Linked DNA regions of Homo sapiens. The protein of the gene in region 4 interacts with the protein of the main gene of each other region in a pairwise test. Each region holds a gene or a part of one and is shown on either strand. Other genes may lie near its edges.

Region 1 (5,579 bases), on a different chromosome or scaffold from region 4:
CATCATTCTGAATCCATAGGTTTCATCACTTTGCCAAAGGAATCCAGGGCATAAAAAAGTTTAAGAGGGAAGGAAGTGGGGCCATTAGTTGGAAAATGAAAAAAAACAGAATTAAGTTCTGTTAGGTCTGGAGACCTAAAAACAATAATGAACTACACCATAGAACAGGACCCAGGCATTTATCTCAAAAGAACACAAACAGATAAGCAACAAATGGAGCCATTTTTCCACTACCAGGAAATCTCCCTAATTCCTCCACTCCCAATAACATTATTTTCTGACACACTTTTATGTTGTTGCAGTATCAACTCAATCTTGATAGCTATCAATTGGAGTATCTGTTTTCAATAACCACAAATGCTTAACCTAAGAATCATAATTTGACAGATCTTAAAATTTCTCATCAATTATGACAATGGAAATTTGGACTTTTTTTTGAAAAAAAAAGCAAGTTTAAAGAAATGGTAAAAAGAAACTCAAATGCTTACAGGATACCACTGGGCTTCTGACAGACGTTGGCTCCCATCTTGCCTTATCTCCACTGTTGACGGGGGTTCCATTACTCTCCCACAAGGCAGTAAGGGACCATTTCTCTTCTGATCTATGTAACTCCATGCAGTCAGCCCAATGTGGCCAGAAGGCAGAGTTCTCACAATTGCTCTTGTTCCAGTATACACAGATTTCTTAACTTCTCTGTCATTTTTACAGAATCTCCTGACTAACAAAGTGGATCGCTCCTTTTTGCTTTTAAAAGCGTCTTCTTCTACATCATCACAATTATCAGGGAAGTCCTCAAAATGGCTCAAAAAGGTCTTGGCAGCTTGACTGTCAGTAAAGTCTTTCCTACAAAAGCTATCACCTGAATATACCATGTCAACCTTCTCACAAGAGCCTTCAAAGCAAAAGTATTTATCATTCAAGGTGTCACAATGATCACACTGCAGCTGCTCATTCTTATTATCACAATTTTTGGCCAATTCCATCAGTTTACAGGTATATGCCACATAGTTTTTCTTTTGCTTCTCCTCACCCCCAGGTAGTGGTACACAATTTCCACAATCGTCTAAAATTAAGTTTTCTGATAGGGTACAGAAAGTGTCTGACATTCTTCTGTCAACTTCATAATGAAAATGAAATACTGCCCTTCTGCTGTCAGGGTGTGCTCTGCCTGTCTCTATGATCACTGACTGATTTCCTAAAGGACTAATGCCCATGGAAGGTCTGTCTAGTTCCAGTTGAATTCCAGGGAACACCTTTCTTTCCAGTGGAGAAGGAATTCCAGTTTCTAAACACAAGTCTTCCTCAGCAACAGAGTTGTACATTTCATAAAATTGTCTCTGAGGAAGGCCATGCTGATGGTTTCTCAATATGTTGTTGCAGTTAATGTTAAGGTTTTTCGCAGAATCTGGCATGATTTTCTCCCAACATTTTTCATTACTGTTCTCATCACTCACTATTTTCTCCCTCGCTATTGAGAGAATCTTTGGCAAGTTGCTTCCAGAAGGTTCTTCTTTAAGTTTGTTCAGTTGTGAGATGGTATGAGAAGTCTCCCCACTTCGTCTGACAGTATGTGCTTTTGAAATATTGATGTCTGAGACCTTTTCACTACTTTCATCTGCAGCCGACTGGGCAGAAACCACTTTTCTCTGAGTCACAGGTATGAGAACAGAAGCTGTCATTTCTTCAGAAGTCATCTTGGACTAACACACAGGTTTTGACTATTGCTCTATTTTTCCTCCCTGGTGATCATGTCAAGGTTTTAATAAAATGACTGATTATTACAACAATCTCAGATACACAAGTCCTCCCAAAGAACAAAGGGATAATTCCTTTCATTCAGGAGCATTAAGAGGCAAATAAATTTTCTTAGTTATAACTTCCTATCATGAATATATATTTTTTCTAGATCAGGGTTTTAAGGTGGTAGATCAATTTTCCTTCCTCTGTTACCTGAAGCAAAATTTTTTGAAGACTTTTACTCGGGATTGCACTCTGCAACTTCTGATCCATCACTGATTTGCAATGATTTTAAAATCCAGTTTGAATGATTCCTGTTTCCTGTAAGAAAAGAGATAATGTCAAACACTGTGGCACTCAGTGAGTTTTTAAAAAAATGATCTCACAATCCTAAGATACAGACAATTTTGAGAAAAAAGGTTTTTTTTTGCAATCAGAAGTTGGTTTTTATGTTTTTAGTATTTTTTTTTTATTTAATGTTTCAGAACTTCTGCTTCCAGCCAAAATGGAGTAACAAGGGCAAGATTTATTCATCCACCTTAAATAACTAAAAAGAAAATCAGAAAAAAACCCAGTGGTTTTCAGATATTGAACAACGAGCAACACAGACATTGATGTCTGAAAGAAGAAAAAAAAAAGAAGTGAGCCCTATAAATGCCCTAGCTTACTGCTTAGAAAGTTTCCAGGCAACAAGGCAAGGAAGGGAAACTCAGATAAAATCCAACAATTTACCTGAGTAGAAGAGAAATAGTTAAGACTTCAGGGAGGCCAAGGAAGCTAGAGAAATAAGGCACATTAAGCAAAGAGGCACAAAGATAAGAATGACAGCAGACTTTTAATCAGAAACAATGCAATCCAGAAGAGAGTGGACAAATCTTTAAAGTACTGAAAGAAAAACTACTGTCAACTTCAAATTCTATACCCAGCAAAAATGTCTTCTGCAAATAAAAATTAAGTAAAAACTTTTCCAGGCATATAAAGCTGAAATAACTTATCACTAACAAGCCTGCACTGCTTGTAACTCTGTTAGTAGAGAGAGGGAATCAAAAAAATTTCTATCCAATGTGGAAACACAATTATAAAGGATATACAAGGCACTATAGGACTAGAAGGTGCCCATGATGAGCATATCATTCCCTTCCAGGAGAAGCAGTTGCTCCCGAGAAAACTAATCAGCAGTCACGCTCTGCTGCCAACACCAGCTTTGCCTTGCCTTTGCTCTTTGACAAATAGATGTCTTTCTTCCCCTTGCTTCTCCCGTACCCTCTTTTCCCAAAGAGTCATCAACTACCCCTTAATCCCTTCTATATGTGTTCCCTCAAGCACAAACACAGCCTCAAGGGTGAGAGGCTCCCAGTATATTCATGTCTCTACAACTACTCTGAAAAATCACTGGAAACCCTAGAAATCATATTCTTTGCAGGGAATAAACCAGCCCACACAGAGCAGCAGTGTCCTAGCTCAACATCCTAACAAATCCTATCACACAGCAATAACTATTATCAATACTTTCAGAAACCTCCTTCCAGAACACTCCCTATGCATCAACATACATAGAGATATATGTGTATAACTATGCAAATACCAGATAATGTTGGTCATTCTGTTCTGTACCTGCTTTTAAAAATTCAAAGCACACCATGAACAACTTTTCAGGTCAAGATTATATAGATAATTTTAGTGGCATATGGCACTAACTTGAATTCAAATATCTGCTCTATTTTTTAAAGAGATTTTTCAGGCCAAAGCCTTCAGATTGACAGCTAATATGTCCTTTCTTACCCATGAGGTAAGCAATTCAAAGGAGGAGAAGGGGAAAACATTTTTGGTGATGCTTAGGTCCTGTTCTAAGGACTTTGTAATTATTGTTGTTATTATAATTATAAATATCATCATCATCATCATAATTTTGAGACAGAGTCCCATTCTGTTACCAGGCTGAAGTGCAATGGCACAATCACTGCTTGCTGCAACCTCTGCCTCCTGGATTCAGCAGTCACATACTGTTCCTTCTATCATATTCTATATGTTAGAAGGAATTACTAAGTATAACCCACATTCAAGGGGAGGGGAATTAGGGTCCACCTTTTGAAAGGAGAAATATCAAAGAATTTGTGGACATATTTTAAAACCAGCCTGGGTTCAAGTGATCCTCCCACCTCAGCCTCCCAAGTAGCTGAGACTATAGCACTGCGCTTGGCTAATTTTTGTATTTTTTGTAAAGACAGGGATTCACCATGTTGCCCAGTCTGGTCTTGAATTTCTGGGCTCAAGCGATCCTCCCATCTTAGCCTCCCAAATTGCTGGAATTACAGGTGTGAGCCACTGTGCCCGGCCACTTTGCAATTATTATCTTGTGTAATTCTCACTCAATACTACAAGATAGTGTGATGGTTTTAAAATATGTCCACAAATTCTTTGATACTCCTCTCTTCACAAGGTGGAGCCTAATTCCCCGCCCCTTGAATGTGGGTTATACTTAGTGGCTTCCCTCTAATGTATGGAATGTGGTAGAAGGAACAGTACATGACTGCTGAGAATCAGTCATGAAAGTCATTGGAGCTTCCTCCTTGCTACTCCTCTCTCGCATGCTCTGGGGGTAATCTGCTGCCATATTGTAAGAAGAGATCCCTGTGGAAAGTATGGAGGACTCTTGACAACACCCATGTGAGTGCGCCATCTTGGAAGCGGATCCTCCAGCTATAGTCAAGGCTTTAGATGATTGTATCTGCAACCTATATCTTGACTGCAACCACATGACAGACCCTCAGACAGATAAGCCTCGTCCCAAATTCCTGACCACAGAAACTGTGAGATGATAAATGTTTATTGCTTTGAGCCACTACATTTTGGGCTAATATGCTACACAGTGATAGATAACTAATACAAATAATTTCTGCTATCCACATTTGAAAGAGTAGAAACCAAAGCAAAGAAAAGCTAAGTGAATTGCCAAAGATCCCTCCACTGGAAAATGATTGAGACAGGATTCAAATCCAAGAAGACTGACTACAGAATCTCTTCTCTTAGCCATAGACTATGCTGTTTTATCTTCCATCTAGTCTGAAGCCCTATGGGTTTGGGTTTCTGATGTCTTCTAGCTATGAAGACCCATGGCTGCTAGGAGAAGCCTTTCATTTTTTATTTTTTATCTTATTTATTTATTTATTTATTTATTTATTTTGAGATGGAGTCTCACTCTGTCGCCAGGCTGGAGTGCAGTGGCATGATCTTGGCTCACTACAACCTCCACTTCATGGATTCAAGCGATTCTCCTGCCTCAGCCTCCTGAGTAGCTGGGACTACAGGCATGTGCCACCACGCCCAGTTAATTTTTTGTATTTTTAGTGGAGACGGGGTTTCACCATGTTAGCCAGGATGGTCTCGATCTCCTGACCTTGTGATCCGCCCACCTTGGCTTCCCGAAGTGCTGGAATTACAGGCATGAGCCACCAAGCCCAGCCAAGAAGCTTATCTTATATGTGGCTTTGTCTCTGGAAGGCTGAGGATATACACAGACATCGAAGCAATGGTCTTTGCTTTGCCTCCAGCTTACTATCATGAATCATGGATGAGCAACATTACAGGGAGCAGACTTTATAGAGCACTAGACTTGGTTCAATCTCAGACCATTCCTTTATTCAGCAAATATTTGTTGAGTACACAATTAAATAAGGCAGGGATCTTGTCCTGGATTTCCTTACCATCTGATAAGTCACCAAAGTACAGTGTAAATAGAGCTATAATCTGCATTAACACAGAGGAAGAACATCTAAAGCAGACAGTGCTGATGGGGTGGGAGTGATTTCCAGGGAGGGTTTCCTTCACAAGAAGACAACTCA
Region 2 (5,579 bases), on a different chromosome or scaffold from region 4:
GCTTGTTGGCCAATAGTACGACTTCTTTTGAGAAGTGTCTGTTTATGCTATTTTCCCACTTTTTAGTGGGGTGATTTGTCTTCTTCTTGTTGATTTGCTTATGTTTCTTATAGATTCTGGATATTAGTTATTCGTCAGATGCGTAGTTTGCAAGTATTTTCTCCCATTCTGTAGATTGTTTACTCTGTTGATAGTTTGTTTTTCTGTGTACAAGCTCTTTAATTAAGTTCCACTTGTCTATTTTTTATTTTGCTGCATTTATTATGAGGTCTTCATAAATTCCTTTTATTTGCTGCATTTATTTTGCTGCATATATTATGAGGTCTTCATAAATTCCTTGCTTAGGCCAAAGTCTTAGAAGAGTATTTCCTAGGTTTGCTTTTAAGATTTTTATAGTTGGAGGTCTTATATTAAGTATTTAATCCATCTCAAGTTAATTTTTTTATATGGTGAGAGATAGGGATCCAGTTTCATTCTTCTGCATATGTTTAGCCAGTTTTCCCAGCACCACTTATTGAATAGGGTATCCTTTCCTCATTGTTTATTTTTGTTGATTTTCTTGAAGATCAGTTGGTTGGAGGTGTGGGCCTTTATTTTAGGGGTCTCTGTTCTATTCCATTGGTATATGTGTCTGTTTTTATACCAGTACCATGCTGTTTTGTTTACTGTAGCCTTGCAATATGGTTTGAAGTCAGGTAATGTGATGCATCCAGCTTTATTCCTTTTGCTTAGGATTGTCTTGGCTCTTTGAGCTCTTTTTTGCTTTCATATACATTTTAGAAGTTTTTTCTAATTCTGTGAAAAGTGATGTTGGTCATTTAATAGGAATACTGTTGAATCTATAGATTGCTTTGGGCAGTTTGGACATTTCATTGATATTGATTCTTTCAACCCATGAGCATGAAATGCTTTTCCATTTGTTCGTGTTGTCTGATTTCTTTCACTGGTATTTTGTAGTTCTCCTCATAGAGATAGTTCACAACCTTGGTTAGACATACTCCTAGTCATTTTTTGGGGGGTGTGGCTATTTTTAATAGGATTGCATTCTTGATGATGTGTTTCTCAGCTTGAACATTATTGGCGTTTAAGAGTACTGCTGACTGGGCCGGGCACAGTGGCTCACGCCTGTAATCCCAGCACTTTGGGAGGCCAAGGCAGGCGGATCACCTGAGGTCGGGAGTTCAAGACCAGCCTGACCAACATGGAGAAACCCAGTCTCTATTAAAAATACAAAATTAGCCGGGCGTGGTGGTGCATGCCTGTAATCCCAGCTACTTAGGAAGGCTGAGGCAGGAGAATTGCTTGAACCGGGGAGGCAGAGGTTGTGGTGAGCCAAGATCGCACTCCAGCCTGGGCAACAAGAGCGAAACTCCATCTCAAAAAAAAAAAAAAAAGTACTGCTGATTTTTGTACCTTGATTTTAAATCCTGAGACTTTGCTGAAGTCATTTATCAGGTCTAGGAGTCTTTTAGTGGAATCTTTAGGGTTTTTTAGATACAGAATCATATCCTTCTCAGAGAGATAATTTGACTTCCTCCTTTTCCTTTTCGTTTGTTGTTTTTGTTGTCGTTGCTAAAAAATAGAGACAGAGTCTCACTATGTTGCCCATGTTGGTCTCGAACTCCTGGACTCAAACTACCCTCTCACCTTGGCCTCCCACAGTGATGTGATTACAGGTGCAAACTACTGCATGCAGCCCTCTTTCTGTTTGAATGCCTTCTGTTTCTCTCGCCTGATTGCTCTGGCTAGGACTTGTCACAGGCATACTGTTTTACTCTTGGTAGCATCTGTTGATGCACAAAAGTTTTTCGGTTGGATGCAGTCCCTTTTTTTTTTTTTTTGCTGCTATTGTGTTTCCTTTTGGTGTCATAGCCAAGAAATCTTTGCCAAATCTAATATTCTGAAGTTTCCTTGATTTGTTGAGCCTATTTTTTTTTTTTTTTTTTTTTTTTAGATGGAGTTTTGCTCTTGTTGCTCAGGCTGGAGCGCAGTGCAGTGGCACAGTCTCACTGCAACCTCCGCCTCTCGGGTTCAAGAGATTCTCCTGCCTCAGCCATCCAAGTAGCCGGGATTACAGGCATGTGCAACCATGCCTGGCTAAATTTTTGTATTTAGTAGAGACGGGGTTTCTCCATGTTGGTCAGGCTGGTCTTGAACTCCTGACCTCAGGTGATCCACCTGCCTTGGCCTCCCAAAGTGCTGAGATTACAGGCGTGAGCCACCGTGCCCGAATTGTTGAGCATTTTTATCATGAACTATGTTGAATTTTGTCAAATAACTTTTTTTTGCACCGATTGAGATGAGCATGTGGTTTTGGTCCTTCACCATGTCAGTGTGGTGTATTACATTGACTTTCTTCTGTTGAACCACTCTTGTCTTCCCAGTGTGTAGTCCACTTGGTCATGGACTATAATCCTGTTAATGTCTTTACAATTTGGTTTCCTAGTATTTTGTTGAGGGCTTTTGCATCAGTGTTTATCACGAATAATATCTTACACTTTTGTTTCCTTGTCATATATTTGCTTGGGTGGTGTCAGACTAAGGGTGGTATCATACAATTGTTTTTTGTTGTTTCCTCTTCTTCACTTATTTGGAATTGTTTGAGAATTGTTAATTCTTCATTCAACATTGAGTAGAATTGTACAGTGCTTATGAGTTATGCATGTGTTCCTGGTCTTTGTTCTAGGATTTTTTTTTTTTTTGATTGCTGCTCCAGTTGCCTTACTACTTATGAGAGTATACAGATTTTTTCTTTCTCACTCAGACACAGTAGGTTAAGTTCTCTTATACTCCTTCTTCTTACTTTGACATTGGAGTTGACCACATGATGGTGTTCCACACTTCCCTTAGGCTATGTTCATTTGTTCATTTTTCTTTTCTTTTCTTTTCTTTTTTGACATGCAGTCTCACTCTGTCACCCAAAGCTGGAGTGCAGTGGTGTGATCTTGGCTCACTGCAACCTCTGCCTCCTGAGTTCAGCTGATTCTTCTGCCTCAGCCTCCTGAGTAGCTGGGATTACAGGCACACATCACCATGCCTGGCTATCTTCATCATTCTTCTATTTCATTTTCTCCTTTTATTTATTTTTTTTAGAGATGGGGTCTCACTTTGTAGCACAGGCTGGAATATGGTGGCATGATCATAGCTTACTGTACCTTCAACCTCCTAGGCTCAAATGATCCTCCTACCTCAGCCTCCTGAGTAGCTGGGACTACAGGCTCATGCCACTACACCCAGCTAATTTTGTGTATTTTTTTTTTCCCCTGAGGTGGCAACTCTTGTTTCCCAGGCTGGAGTGCAGTGGTGCGATCTCAGCTCATTGCAACCTCCATCTCCTGGGTCCAAGCGATTCTTCTGCCTCAGCCTCCCGAGTAGTTGGGATTACAGGTGCCCACCACCATGCCCAGCTAAGTTTTTGTATTTTTGTAGAGATGAGGTTTCATCATGTTGGCCAGGCTGGTCTCGAACTTCTGACCTCGTGATCCGCCCGCCTTAGCCTCCCAAAGTGCTGGGATTACAGGCGTGAGCCATCACGCCTGGCTCTAGTGTGTTTTTTAATTCAGTTATGTTTTTCAGCTCTAGAATTTCTGTTTCTTCTTCATAATTTTTATCTCTTTGTTGATAATCTCATATTTATTGTTTTTCTGATTTTCTGAAGTTGTTTATGAGTACTGTCTTAATACACTGAGCAACTTTAGGAGTCTTATTGTTATTTCTTTGATAATGTATATATATATATATCTGCTTCTTTAGTATTACTTTGTGGTGATTTAATATGTTGCTGCATATGGTCCATGTTTCTTTTTTTCTTTTGCTTTTTTTTTTTTTTTTTTGAGATGGAGTCTCACTCTGTCACCCAGGCTGGAGTGCAGTGGTGGGATCCCAGCTCACTGCAACCTCCACCTCCCGGGTTCAAGCGATTCTCTGTCTCAGCCTCCTGAGTAGCTGGGATTGCAGGCATCCGCCACCACGCCCGGCTAATTTTTGTATTTTTTGTAGAAACGGGATTTCACCATTTTGGCCAGGCTGGTCTCGAACTCCTGACCTCGTGATCCACCCGCCTCGGCTCCCAAAGTGCTGGGATTACAGGTGTGAGCCACCGTGCCTGGCTTCTTTTGATATCTCGTTATCTCCTGTTGGGACCACAGCATTTCACTAATCAGCCACTTGTAGTTTTTGATTCTGGCTTCCTTCAGGGAAGACATGCTACAGTCATCCTGACTAGAGGCTCTGGAGATCCCTCAAGCCTTTTCTAAGGATGCGTCCTCCGTGGACTTTTTGATTGTAGCTTAACTAAAGAGCTTGTGCCAGTTTGTATGCAGGAATGCCTCTGTTGTCTGCCGGCTGTTCCGCAGCCTCGCTGGTGTCCTAGTAAGCTGGGGGCTGCACCGCCACCTAATGTCTGCGTACGTTACTACAAGCTCTGGTTTATGACGGATGGCTTTGTTCTCAGTAGCTTCCTTACCTGGGGTCCTGTTACTTCAGTGTTTATATTCAGGCAAGACAGAAACTTGTCCCTTAGCAGTGCCCTGAAAAGTCAGAACGTTATGAGCCTTGTGTTGTGTTACAGGAAAAAAGAGAAAAAAAAAGTCAGAATGTTAGATGGATATTCCCATACTTTCTCTCCCCAGGAGAAAATGGAAGTGTGGTTTTCTCACAGTGATACTACATCATGGCAGGATAGGGCCTCAGGTGAGCAGGTGTTTCAAAAGAGTTCTGACCTCTGATGTGGTTGCCAGATTTCCCACAAAGACAATTTGGTCCATGTAGTGTTATTAAATCTGTGTCTCCATGGGTAGTGCTTGGGACTTCCTACTCCTCTGTCTTATAGACAGCATCACTTCAGTACAGTTTTCTTTTTTTGAGATGGAGTCTCACTCTGTCACCCAGGCTGGAGTGCAGTGGCGTGATCTCGGCTCACCGCAACTTCTACCTCCTGGGTTTAAGTGATTCTCCTGCCTTAGCCTCCCGAGTAGCTTGGATTACAGGCGCCTGCCACCACGCCTGGCTAATTTTTGTATTTTTAGTAGAGACAGGTTTCACCATGTTGGCCAGGCTGGTCTTGAACTCCTGACCTCAAGTAATCCACCCGCCTCGGCCTTTCAAAGTGCTGGATTACAGGCATGAGCCGCCACGCCCGGCCGCATTATCATTTCTTAAGATACCAGTTGTGCTTATTTAGTTCATGTAGTTATTGAATATCACTCAGTATGTCAAACATAATGTCTAACACTTCCATAGAGATAACCTTGTTTTCTGTTTTTTATTTGTATACTTATTGCCCATAAAACTGAGAAATCGACACTGATATAGAGGATATCACAACCTCTTAGGTAAAAGAATAATAAGACAGAATTAGGGAGACATAACTTGCTCAAAAGTCCTTAATGCGTAGGAAAATATGGGAAAAACAGACTCAGTTTCTCCTGCTTTGCTTCCATAATACAAATACTTCTGTGATTTTGGATGTATTGGGTTTTCCTCTACACATCAAATAAACAATTCTGCAACAGACACCAAATGGGTGTTCTCATATTTGATTCCATTCTGACACTGTCTATCTGGATATAGGGTCAGCT
Region 3 (5,579 bases), on a different chromosome or scaffold from region 4:
CATGAGCCACCATACCCTGGTTTTCTACTTTTTAATTAGTAAAACTTGAAAGTTTTCTATTAACTTTATCTTTACATAAAAAAGGCAACAAATAGTCTAACTTAAAAACCAACTTAAAAACCAACAATGCAAATCCTCAAACACACAATACCAATGAAGATCACAGGTTAGATTTAATGGACAATTCAGCCTAATGTTTTTCTTAAATCTTGCCTTTATATAGAAATAATTTTTTTTTAAGTTTTGGAGTAGGCTCTTGTAGATTTTGCTTTTATTTGTAAGGAGACTACACTTAAATTCTTCTAGCTTTCAGGATGATACTAGTGTTGTTTTTAAATAATAAATTTTCTGAGATAAAGTGGCCTAGCACATAGTGTGTAGTCCTGATAAGATAAGTAAGTCCTGACAAGGTAAGTAAGCAACAAAGAGGAAGGGGCCCAGGTGGGGGAGAACAATGAGTAATTACTCTGAGAGATGACCTCCTACAGGTAGCCCCAGGAGCACGGCTACATTCTGCAAGCAGTCCCCTCCAGCAGGACCATGTAAAACGTCCCTCAAGCCGCTGCGTCTTTGCAGACTTCCCCTTCTCTGCTGTGCTGCTCACTGCAACCTTGCAACATATTTTCACACTTTCTCCAATAAATCTGCCTTTACCTATGACTGTCTTGGTAAATTCCTTTACAGCCCGTGACACTGGCCCCAACTAGTCACGCCCACGACATATAGTTTTATTTTATTTTAATTTTTTAGAGGCAGGGTCTCACTATATCATCCAGCTGGGATTGCTGTGCTGTGGTCACCGCTCACTCCACCCCTGAACTCCTGGCCTCAAGCCGTCCTCCCACCTCAGCATTCCAAAGGCGGTGGGATTACAGGCATGAACCATCACATCTGGCCTGCACATGGTATATTTAAAAGGCCATGTGATTTTGACTTTATGTCTTTTGTTATAAGTAGTCTCAAAGGATTTTTTAAGGAAGCCAATTATACTCAATTACAAACCATTAACTGTTATCCTTTCCCATAAATTTAAGTTCTTACAGAGTTTATTTGATTCAATATTCTCAAAGAAATCTATTTAATCAAAAACTCATTTTTACTCAGCTTTAATCTAAGGTGTCAGGCCTCTGAGCCCAAGCTAAGCCATCATATCCCCTCTGACCTGCAGGTACACATCCAGATGGCCGGTTCCTGCCTTAACTGATGACATTCCAACACAAAAGAAGTGAAAATGGCCTGTTCCTGCCTTAACTGATGACATTACCTTGTGAAATTCCTTTTCCTGGCTCATCCTGGCTCAAAAAGCTCCCCCACTGAGCACTTTGTGACCCCCACTCCTGCTCGCCAGAGAACAACCCCCCTTTTTCCTTTACCTACCCAAATCTTATAAAACGGCCCCACCCCATCTCCCTTCACTGACTCTTTTCAGACTCAGACCGCCTGCACCCAGGTGAAATAAACAGCCTTGTTGCTCACACAAAGCCTGTTTGGTGGTCTCTTCACACGGACGACAGTGAAATAAGGTGTTCAACAAAAAAAGCTAAATGTTATTGATACAGAATACAAGGAAACTGAGGTTTCATGAAATTAATGACAACTGTTTACACAGTTCCTGATCTGTAAAAGAACAGTAGTTCCTAGTATTGACCAAAGACTCCATTCAGTACCTAAGGTTAATTTTACCTGCATTATTTTGTGAAGGCGGGTCACATACACTTTGCTGATTACAGAACATCAAGATACAAAGCAGGTTACAGAAATGTTTCATTTCCCCTCGCCATTTCAAGGACTCACTGAGTTTACCCTGTCGCTTACAAGCATCACATTTGGCCATCTAAAAAGAAGAAGGTAGTCAAGGAGTAAGAAACAAATTATCTGTGGTCTGACAAAATAAAAATAAGACACACATAACAAGTGACGAAATTAACTTAGAATTTAGATCAAAAAATTAGTTTGTCTTTATCAATGATTATACACACACACACACACACACACACACATATATATATATATTTTTTTTTTTTTTTGAGACAGAGCCTTGCTCTATCGCCCAGGCTGGAGTGCAGTGGCGTGATCTCAGCTCACTGCAAGCTCCACCTCCTGGGTTCATGCAATTCTCCTGCCTCAGCCTCCCAGGTAGCTGGGACTACAGGCGCCCGCCACCACACCCAGCTAATTTTTTTGTATTTTTAGTAGAGACGGGGTTTCACCATGTTAGCCAGGATGGTCTCGATCTCCTAACCTCATGATCCACCCGCCTCGGCCTCCCAAAGTGCTGGGATTACAGGCGTGAGCCACCGCGCCCAGCTGATTTTATACTAATTTTTTTTAAAAAACACATGTAACATACAGACTTCACTCTATAGCAATTAAAAAACAAAGTGAAATAAAAATAAGGTCTATCTTCCTCAGACTTCAGAAGACAAATTCACTTTATTTAAATAATAAGTGAATAAAATTATAAGTTTAAATATTTTAATGTCTTAAGACTGATATGTCTCCTACAGGAAATTAAAAACAAAAGAAAACTTCAATAACATTAAAGTCTTTCTAAATCTTATATTAATTGCTAGAAGGCATAAAACATTTAATACTTAAAAGTTTTAAATAATTAAATTGTCCTTTATGTGACATGAAATTTTAAAAGGGAATAATTTATGCCCTAGAATGAAAAACCCAGGAATGTGAATTCTATTTACCTGATAGAACAAAACTGTATATTTGGACATGCATTCTTCACAACAGAACTCTTCCACTTTCCCTCCTAAATTATTCTGTACCAATTTGGGAGATGTCTGTAAACAATAACTGCACATTTTACAGTGATTTCCCCAGCGTTTTGCCAAGTCATGTTTATAAAGCAATTTGCAACCTAAAAATCAGGAAAGATAAAATTAACATTAGGTAGAAGTATTAGTTTTCTGCAACTTTAAATGGCCTAGGACAGGCCCGGTGCAGTGGCTCACACCTGTAATCCCAACACTTTGGGAGGCTGGCGGGAGGAGTGCTTGAGCCCAGGAGTTTGAGACCAGCCTGGGCAACATGGCAAGACCCCATGTCAAATAAAAACAAAAACAAAAAAAAGAAAAATAAGTGGTCTAGGACAAAGTTTTCACACTTGGGTCCTGACCAGTTCACAGAGTATCTTGATTTTTTAGAGTATCTATACTAGTTTTTGTTTTGCTTTGTTTTTGTTTTTGTTTTAAATGATATAAGACAGGATAGCACAGAAGAGAAAATATTAAACTGCATCGATTTTATTTCATGAAACTTTTGGGGCTGGGCGTAGTGGCTCACACCTGTAATCCCAGCACTCTGGGAGGCCAAAGTGGGTGGATCACCTGAGGTCAGGAGTTGGAGACCAGCCTGGCCAACATGGTGAAGCCCTGTCTCTACTAAAAATACAAAAATTAGCCAGGTGTGGTGGCGGGTGCCTGTAGTCCCAGCTACTCGGGAGGTTGAGGCAGGAGAATCGCTTGAACCCAGGAGGCAGAGGTTGCAGTGAGCCAAGATCGCTCCATGGCATTCCAGCCTGGGTGACAAAGCAAGACTCTGTCTCAAAAAACAAAAACAAAAACAAAAAAAACTTTTATTTAGGTATGTGAAAATATACTGGGTCACAGTGTAAATGTATTTCTTCTTTGGTGTTATCAAAAGGTTTGAAAGCCCTTGCTCTAGAAGGCTAATACAGCTTTAGAGTAAAATAAAACATTATAAACATATAGAAGAGTTATCTAAGGAAAACAATCTTCCACATATTAATTTGCATATTCAAGCCATTTATATTCAGAAATATAATGGCTGTTTAAGACAATAAAAGTATAAACTTAGAATGTTACCATAATTTAAGGCATCCCATTTAGAAATAAGTACACGAACTAGAAGCTCTTTGAGGTCCCGATCAACCTAATAATGGGGAACCTAAGGATGTTAAATGTTTTTCACATCATCTTCTTCTGCATTATACTTTGCAAATCTTTCACTTCATTTTAACAGCTACATAATATAAGAAAACTAGATCAAAAAAGAATGAACTAAGTGTAAATGAATCGAAAAGGCATTTACGTTATACATAAACAATAAAACAGATTAACTTAGACAGTGAAAGCTTAAATCATCATCAACTGCTTTAAAACAACCAACATGCTCAGTAGGTAAGATAATCTTCTGTCTTTACCTTCACTACAGAATGACTTGTCAGCACCTGAGAACCGAACAGTCTCCTTTACAATTTTCTCAATTTTACAATATTCACACATTGCCATTACATTATTTATTTTCTTATATTCATCAGAACAATTCTTGCCACAGAACTGAAACATTTTGCCCTGCAAAGAAATAATCATTAAGTACTAATTAAACATTTGGTTTGTCTTATGGAACTCCTTATCTCCCTTACTTTCAAAACAAATGGTATGATTTTGAGAGATGCAAAGTTAAAAATAATTTTACAAATAGACCCACGTATACTCAAAATCTTATCATGAACATGCTATACTTTACCTTATAGTCAAGAAGTTCTGGTTTTGTGGCAAAAAGACGGTTACAGTGTTGACATTTGAGTTTCACAACACTTCGTGCAAACCCAACATGCTGGGACTGGGCAGCGAGACGCTGGAGACCAGCTGCAGCAGAGCTACTGATGGAGGTGGGAGAAACAGCAGATGTGCTACCTCCTCCGGCTGACACTGTGGAACCTGTGGGGATGCTTACAATTACTTGGCCCTGAGACAAGGGCACTACTGAAGAATTCATTCCAGTTGGTTTGTTGAATAAATTCTGGAAAAACAAAACAACAAAAAGTATCAATTTAATCTTTGTTAAAACAAAGAAGTATTGTGTGCCTACATATGCCAAGCACCGTTCTAGGCATGTAAGGTACATCTGTTAACAGGCAATGTTCCTGCCTCTGAGCAGCTTATTACGGAATGGGGGGAGTCTCATTTATGATGAAAAAATAAAATAACTTAACTAATAATCTTCCTCAAAAATAATATCCTCCCAATAGATAATATGGGTGATAAAAGTACCATTCAATTTTATAGAAGGCAGTTAAATTAAATTCCAAATACAGAATGAACTACAAATCCAAGTTTAATAGGAATGATATAGAAACTTATACAACCCAGGCCCTAGCAAACACCTAATAAATGTGCATTACTATAGTAGGTGATAGGTTTGAATTCGTGTCCCTGCCCAAATCTCATGTCCAGTCGGTAATCCCCAATGTTGGGGGAGGAGCCTGGCAGGAAGTGACTGGATCATGGGGGTGGATTTCTCCCCTGCTGTTCTGGTGATAGTGAGTTCTCACTATCTGGTTGTTTAAAAGTGTAGCACCTCCCGCTTCTCTCTCTTCCTCTTGAGCCCATCATGTAAGACGTGCCGGCTTCCCCTTCGCCTTCCGCCATAATTGAAAGTTTCCTGAGGCCTCTCCAGCCATGCTACCTGTACAGCCTGTGGAACTGTGAGCCAATTAAACCTCTTTCTTTATAAATTACCCAGTCTAGGGTATTTCTTTAGAGGAGTGCAAGAACAGACTCATACAGTAGGTGACTCACTGACTGAAGAAGAGGAAGGTT
Region 4 (5,579 bases):
TTAGTTTTGGGCTATTAAGAAAGCTACTACGAACAAATAGACAGGTGTTTGTTGTTGTTTTTGAGACAGTGTCTTGCTTAGTCACCCAGACTGGAGTGGAATGCAGTAGCATGATCATGACTTACTGCACCCTAGACCTCCCAGGCTGAAGCAATCCTTCCACCTCAGTCCCCCAAGTAGCTGGGACTACAGACACACGCCACCATGCCTGGATAATTTTTGTATTTTTTTGGTAGAAACAGGGTTTCGCCATGTTGTCCAGGCTAGTCTGGGGGTCCCAAACTCCTGGGTTCCAGCAGTCCACCCACCTCAGCCTCCCAAAGTGCTGGAATTTTAGAGCCACTGTGCTCAGCCTGTCTAAGTTTTATGTGAATGTAACTTTTCCTTTTCTGGGATAAATGTCCAAGAGTGTGCAATTGGCAGGTTGTACAGAAATCGTATGTTTAGTTTTTTGAGAAACTGACAGTTTTTTTCCAGCATGACTGTACCATTTCACTTAAAAAGTGAAATTGACATTATTTTCCTGTGAGTACATAAAGGTAAAGAATTCAGGGACAGTACCACGGCCCTCTTTAGTGCTAAGCGGCCAGCAGTTGTACCGACTGTTGTTTTTGCACTATCTGTGTGTCAACACAGTCCACAATGCTACAGTGACTTCTTAGGAATATCTTAGTATGATGAAAATAGTTTTGATCTCTCGGATCCCTTAGAAAGGTCTTGGAGACCCTCAGGAGTTCAAGGCCATACTTTAAGAACCACTGTTAAAGACATAATCCTAAATGATGAAGGATATGCAGGTATTGGGGATATTTAAAAAGGAACAAATACAAGGTTTCTCTTAAAATTGCTCTTGAATGCTTGTGGTAGTGTGTGCCTTGTAGTTTTGGCTAGTTTTAGTAGGATGTAATAACTAAGACTTGGACCACCATGGAAGAAGCAACTTTCTGCCTTTCAGGATTTTCCCTGATAAGAAAATGGCCAGTGCCATTATGAAGAGGGACAATGCCATGGGCCTAAGTGTATTCACACTTTTCAGTGCTCTGTGCCTGTTTGTATGGTGAGAAAATCGAACTGTTGATTTTTAAGAAAGCTAAGGAAAGTTTGGTGGTACAAAAGATCATTTCAGTTCTGGTGGTTCCGGTTTTTGCAGGCTTAGAGAAAACTGTCCATCAGGATTGTGCTGTCTTGATTTTATTTGATCATTCCCACCCTTTTCCCTTTGCTGTAGCCCCTTGACCTGTCTCCTGGGCAGTTCTTTCCTTTGCTAAATGTGAGTACAACAAGTAGGCTTTCCTTTCCTCCTAGAGAGGGGGACCTTGGAGCCCCTCCACTGGGTCAGAGAAACTTCCATAGCTGCAGCAGATCAGTAACAGGAGAGCCGAGCTTTACTCTGAAAGCCTCTATTTTCAATAATGTTGTGTTTGCTCTTTGGATAATCATTTAAATAAATAAACCTCAGTATAGGTCATGTTCTTACCTAGGTTTGCACTTAAATAGAAGGAAAAACATCTCAAACCATTTTGTTAGTTTTATAGTTCTCGTAACTACACTTTAAGCTGTGGTTTTCCACCCACAGGGATGTCATCTACATTATATGCTGGACTGTTGCCACATTGTCTTCCAAAAACTTTAATTTTAAGACACTTGAGAAGCAGGAGCTGCACTACCTGTTGCCATATACTGTGCATTCTTCAGCAACAGAGGTTTCCTTTTCACTCTTTCTGATATAATCTCATCTCTTTTATTTGATCATATCACACATTTCCACCCTGGAGCTTACTGCAGGAATGAGTAAGGGAGTCATTTTCCTGCATCTTTTTTCACGTTGGAGCACGTTTTGGAGCTTGATGAGTCTTCAGTGACATTTAACAGTGGGGCGGGACAGCTGCAGATAAAGCAAGTGCTGAAGAGTGCATTCTGTGAGAGGTAGGAAGAAAGGTGAAGGCAGTAGTTCAGCTGCTGGGAGTATGTGCTTGGCAGTGGGAGGCACGGGACTCAGCATCAGCACACCAGGAATCCAGGGCTTTCAGGATGTCTGAGTAGCAGGCAAGGTAAAGCAAGATAACAGACAACATGCATTTACAAGTAATGTTTACACATACTTTCCCTTTCTACAAAAATGGAATCATAGTCATACTATTCTGCAATTGCTTTTTTTAGTATTAAAAAAGTTACGGGAAAACATGCAAAACAAAATTTACTATTTTAACCATTTTTGAGTGTACAGTTCTGTGGCATTATGTACATTGACGTTGCTGTGCAACCATCACTACCCTTCCTTCCAAGAACTTTTTCATCTTCCCAAACTGAAACTCTGTGACCAGTAAATACCAACTCCCCATTTCTTGCAATTGCTTTTTTACTTCAACAAGCTGTCTTAGAGCGGTGTATCTGGGTTTACCTTATGTTTTTTAACCTTAGTTTTAATGGCTGCATAGTATTTCACAGTGTACATGTGATATGATTTGTACATCCAGTCCTTGACTAGTGGTTATTTGGGTTCTATTTTTTAATTATCACAAACACTTTGAACATCTCTGCCAGAGTGTTTTTTGTTTTGTTTTGTTTTTGAGACAAGGTCTCACTCTGTCACCCAGGCTGGAGTAAAGTGGTGCAATCATGGCTCACTGCAGCCTCAACCTCCTGGGGTCAGGTGATCCTTTCACCTTAGACTTCTGAGTAGCTGGGACAACAGGTACATGCCACTATGCCCGGCTAATATTTTGTATTTTTTGTAGTGACAGGGTTTCCCCATCTTGCCCAGCCTAGTGTTGAATTCCTGGCCTCAAGCGATCCGCCCTTCTCGGCCTCTCAAAGTTCTGGGATTACAGGCGCGAGCCACTGCACCCAGCTACCAGAGTTTTCATAGCTTTCTGAGTGTAGAGTTAGTATGTGCATGAGTGTTTGGGTCCATGTTCTAGTCCTAGTTCTGTCCCTTCATGGCTCTTTGACTTTGGCCCTGTCAGCGTCTTTAAGCCTCAGATTCTTAATTTATAAAATAATCCCACCTGTCTCAGAGGTTGTTGTGATAACTAAATATGAAGGCAAATGCAAATATTTCTGAAAGGATACCGATGAAATTTTTAGTGATTGTTGCTTCTGGAGAGGGAGTCTAGGCACCTGAGAATCCAGGATGAGAGGGACATTTTTTGTTGTATAGCTTTTTGTACTGTTTTGATTTTTAAAATCGTGTATGTTTTCATTTTTAAACCATTTAACACCATGCCAGGAACATAGTAGATGCTCAATGAAGTCATCATTTCCCATCATCCTGGTTCTTTTCCTCCGGACTTATACTGCTGCTAATGGCACCTAACATGGTTGCTTTTGTTTCTTCCTGTCCTTCCCTCCCTATAGCCACCTTCTTGCTGAGTTCTTACCTTCGAATTTTCTCTTGAATCCATCGTTTTCTTTTTTCACTCCTTTCTTACTGATTTCCTTTTCACCCTGGTTCTGAAAATCTTTCAAATGAACATAAGATGATAGTATTAAGACTGGGAAAGACTTGAGAGAATGCAGAGCCAGTGTCCTGTGGACTGTAAACTTATTCCAACTGGCTTGAAAAAAAAAATCTATGCACATACTAAGTGTTTGAAGTGGAACAAATGATGTTTTGTGAATGTTTCTAATTTTCATTTAACAGGTGATAAAGTACAGATTCCTTTTTTTTTTTTTTTTTTTTTTTGAGACGGAGTCTTGCTCTGTTGCCCAGGCTGGAGTGCAGTGGCATGATCTCGGCTCACTGCAGGCTCCGCCTCCCGGGTTCAAGTCATTCTCCTGCCTCAGCTTCCCAAGTAGCTAGGACTACAGGCGCCTGCCACAACACCTGGCTAATTTTTTGTATTTTTAGTAAAGACGGAGTTTCACCGTGTTAGCCAGGATGGTCTCTACCTCCTGACCTTGTGATCTGCCCGCCTCGGCCTCCCAAAGTGCTGGGATTACAGACTTGAGCCACCGCGCCTGGCTGATAAAGTACAGATTCTTTTAAAGGGTTTGTGGAATTCGTGGTAGTATTTATATAGTGCATGCTTTATCTGTTAACGTGCTAAAAAGACAATCATGGTGACATGAAGATCTAAGAAAATTTATTTAACATTTAAAAAGTGGGTTTATATGTGAAAAAGTTGGAACCTACTGAACTCATGCACTTTAGTGGGTCCCCTGCATTAGCCCTTTATTTAAATACACTGCTTCTTTATTTTACAGGACAGGATTTGCCTAGAAGGTAAAATAGTTTATTCAAGGCCGAAAGTCAGTTAACAGCAGGGTTAGGAATACAGCCCAAGATGTGGTTGTATTGTGGGGTCTCCTCTGCTATATTACGTTGGTTTGCTCTGTTACTTTATTCACATTGCATTGTTACAGTTTGTTGTGTGTATATATTTTATCTTTTTGTCTACAGTATAGAGTAAATACCTTGAGGACCAAGACCTATAGCTGAGCCCATTAACATAGTACATTTGGAAATGTCTGAATGAATTATGGATATTGGCCCAGAATTGTTCTATTACAGGTGTCCTGGATGTCAGTCTCTTTCAAGTGATTCCTTTTGAAGAACACTTCAGAAGTGTTGTTGAAGACCTGGTATTCCTAGCCACATGTGCTGGTGCTTGCAACTTTTTCCTCCCCAGAGAGATCCCTTCCTATTGACGGGCTTCCTTACCAATGCATCAGCTGAGTGACAAATGTTACCAACTACTTAAACAGATATGTTTATTTCTCATTGGTAAATGTAGCTGTTGTTTTGTTTTTGTTTGCTTACTTTTAAAGCTGGGCACATTGCTGTCCATTTTAAAATTTGCCTTGTTAATACAGTGAGGAAGGGAGGGAGAATGGACATTGGGTAGGCAGTTGCAGCTTTTGCCACAGCTAGCTGTTTCTCCTTCTCAGTGCAGTAGATTCAACAGGATTTGTTTTTCTGTGCAGGTACAGTGCAGGTGCACCTGACTGATCTGTCATCCATGTTGGTTTCAGATTTTTCTAAAGAACTACTTTGGTCACATGTTTTCAAAATATTGAGAAGCTGCTTATTGCCTGTCAAGTAGGTCCAAACTCCAGCGCCTGGAATTTAAGGCTGTTTGTGATCTGGCCCAACCCATCTTCATAGCCTTGTCACACACTGTTTCCTTAGCCTTTGTCTCTCTAACCCACTGCCTTTTTCTGAAAATGATGATTTCCTGCCTCAGTGCTGTTCATGCCCTTCTCTGGGCCTGGAAAATCATCATCTTTTGTGTTTTCTTGGCAGCTGGAACAAAATTGCCGCTTCTCTCATAAAATAACGAATTCCTGGAGCATTAATTTAGCCCCCGCTGTGTAGTAGGGAATTAGGGATTCAGAGCTTTTTCTGTTTTCCCAAAGCATTTTGAATTCTTTTTTGGTAATTACCAATTTCTGTTTTGTTTTATAGTTTTTTGTATATATGTCTAAGCTTTTCTGCCAAAGTGTAATCTCTGGAAGTAAAGGAATGTCTTAATCAAATTTGTTAAATATCCAAAGAAAAACAAGCTGCACAGTAGGCTTTATTTCTCCTTTTATTTGTTGTTAGTGAATCGAAAAGTTCAGGGCTAGCTCTGTTTAGT

What was found.
Region 1: the proteins of LIMS1 (region 4) and PLCE1 interact in a two-hybrid assay, tested with the Homo sapiens proteins (one large-scale study listed by BioGRID and IntAct).
Region 2: the proteins of LIMS1 (region 4) and ZNF160 interact in a two-hybrid assay, tested with the Homo sapiens proteins (one large-scale study listed by BioGRID and IntAct).
Region 3: the proteins of LIMS1 (region 4) and ZMYM4 interact in a two-hybrid assay, tested with the Homo sapiens proteins (one large-scale study listed by BioGRID and IntAct).

The regions. Positions count from the first base shown.
Region 1 is NC_000010.11:94,027,162-94,032,740, reverse strand, and holds part of PLCE1 (1-phosphatidylinositol 4,5-bisphosphate phosphodiesterase epsilon-1), read right to left. Parts: intron 2,059-5,579; 5' UTR 1,695-2,058; coding exon 489-1,694; intron 1-488. UniProt on the Homo sapiens protein: The production of the second messenger molecules diacylglycerol (DAG) and inositol 1,4,5-trisphosphate (IP3) is mediated by activated phosphatidylinositol-specific phospholipase C enzymes.
Region 2 is NC_000019.10:53,075,923-53,081,501, reverse strand, and holds part of ZNF160 (zinc finger protein 160), read left to right. Parts: intron 1-5,579. UniProt on the Homo sapiens protein: May be involved in transcriptional regulation.
Region 3 is NC_000001.11:35,386,203-35,391,781, reverse strand, and holds part of ZMYM4 (zinc finger MYM-type protein 4), read right to left. Parts: intron 4,780-5,579; coding exon 4,504-4,779; intron 4,329-4,503; coding exon 4,178-4,328; intron 2,873-4,177; coding exon 2,700-2,872; intron 1,835-2,699; coding exon 1,684-1,834; intron 1-1,683. UniProt on the Homo sapiens protein: Plays a role in the regulation of cell morphology and cytoskeletal organization.
Region 4 is NC_000002.12:108,536,532-108,542,110, forward strand, and holds part of LIMS1 (LIM and senescent cell antigen-like-containing domain protein 1), read left to right. Parts: intron 1-5,579. UniProt on the Homo sapiens protein: Within the IPP (ILK-PINCH-PARVIN) complex, binds to F-actin, promoting F-actin bundling, a process required to generate force for actin cytoskeleton reorganization and subsequent dynamic cell adhesion events such as cell spreading and migration.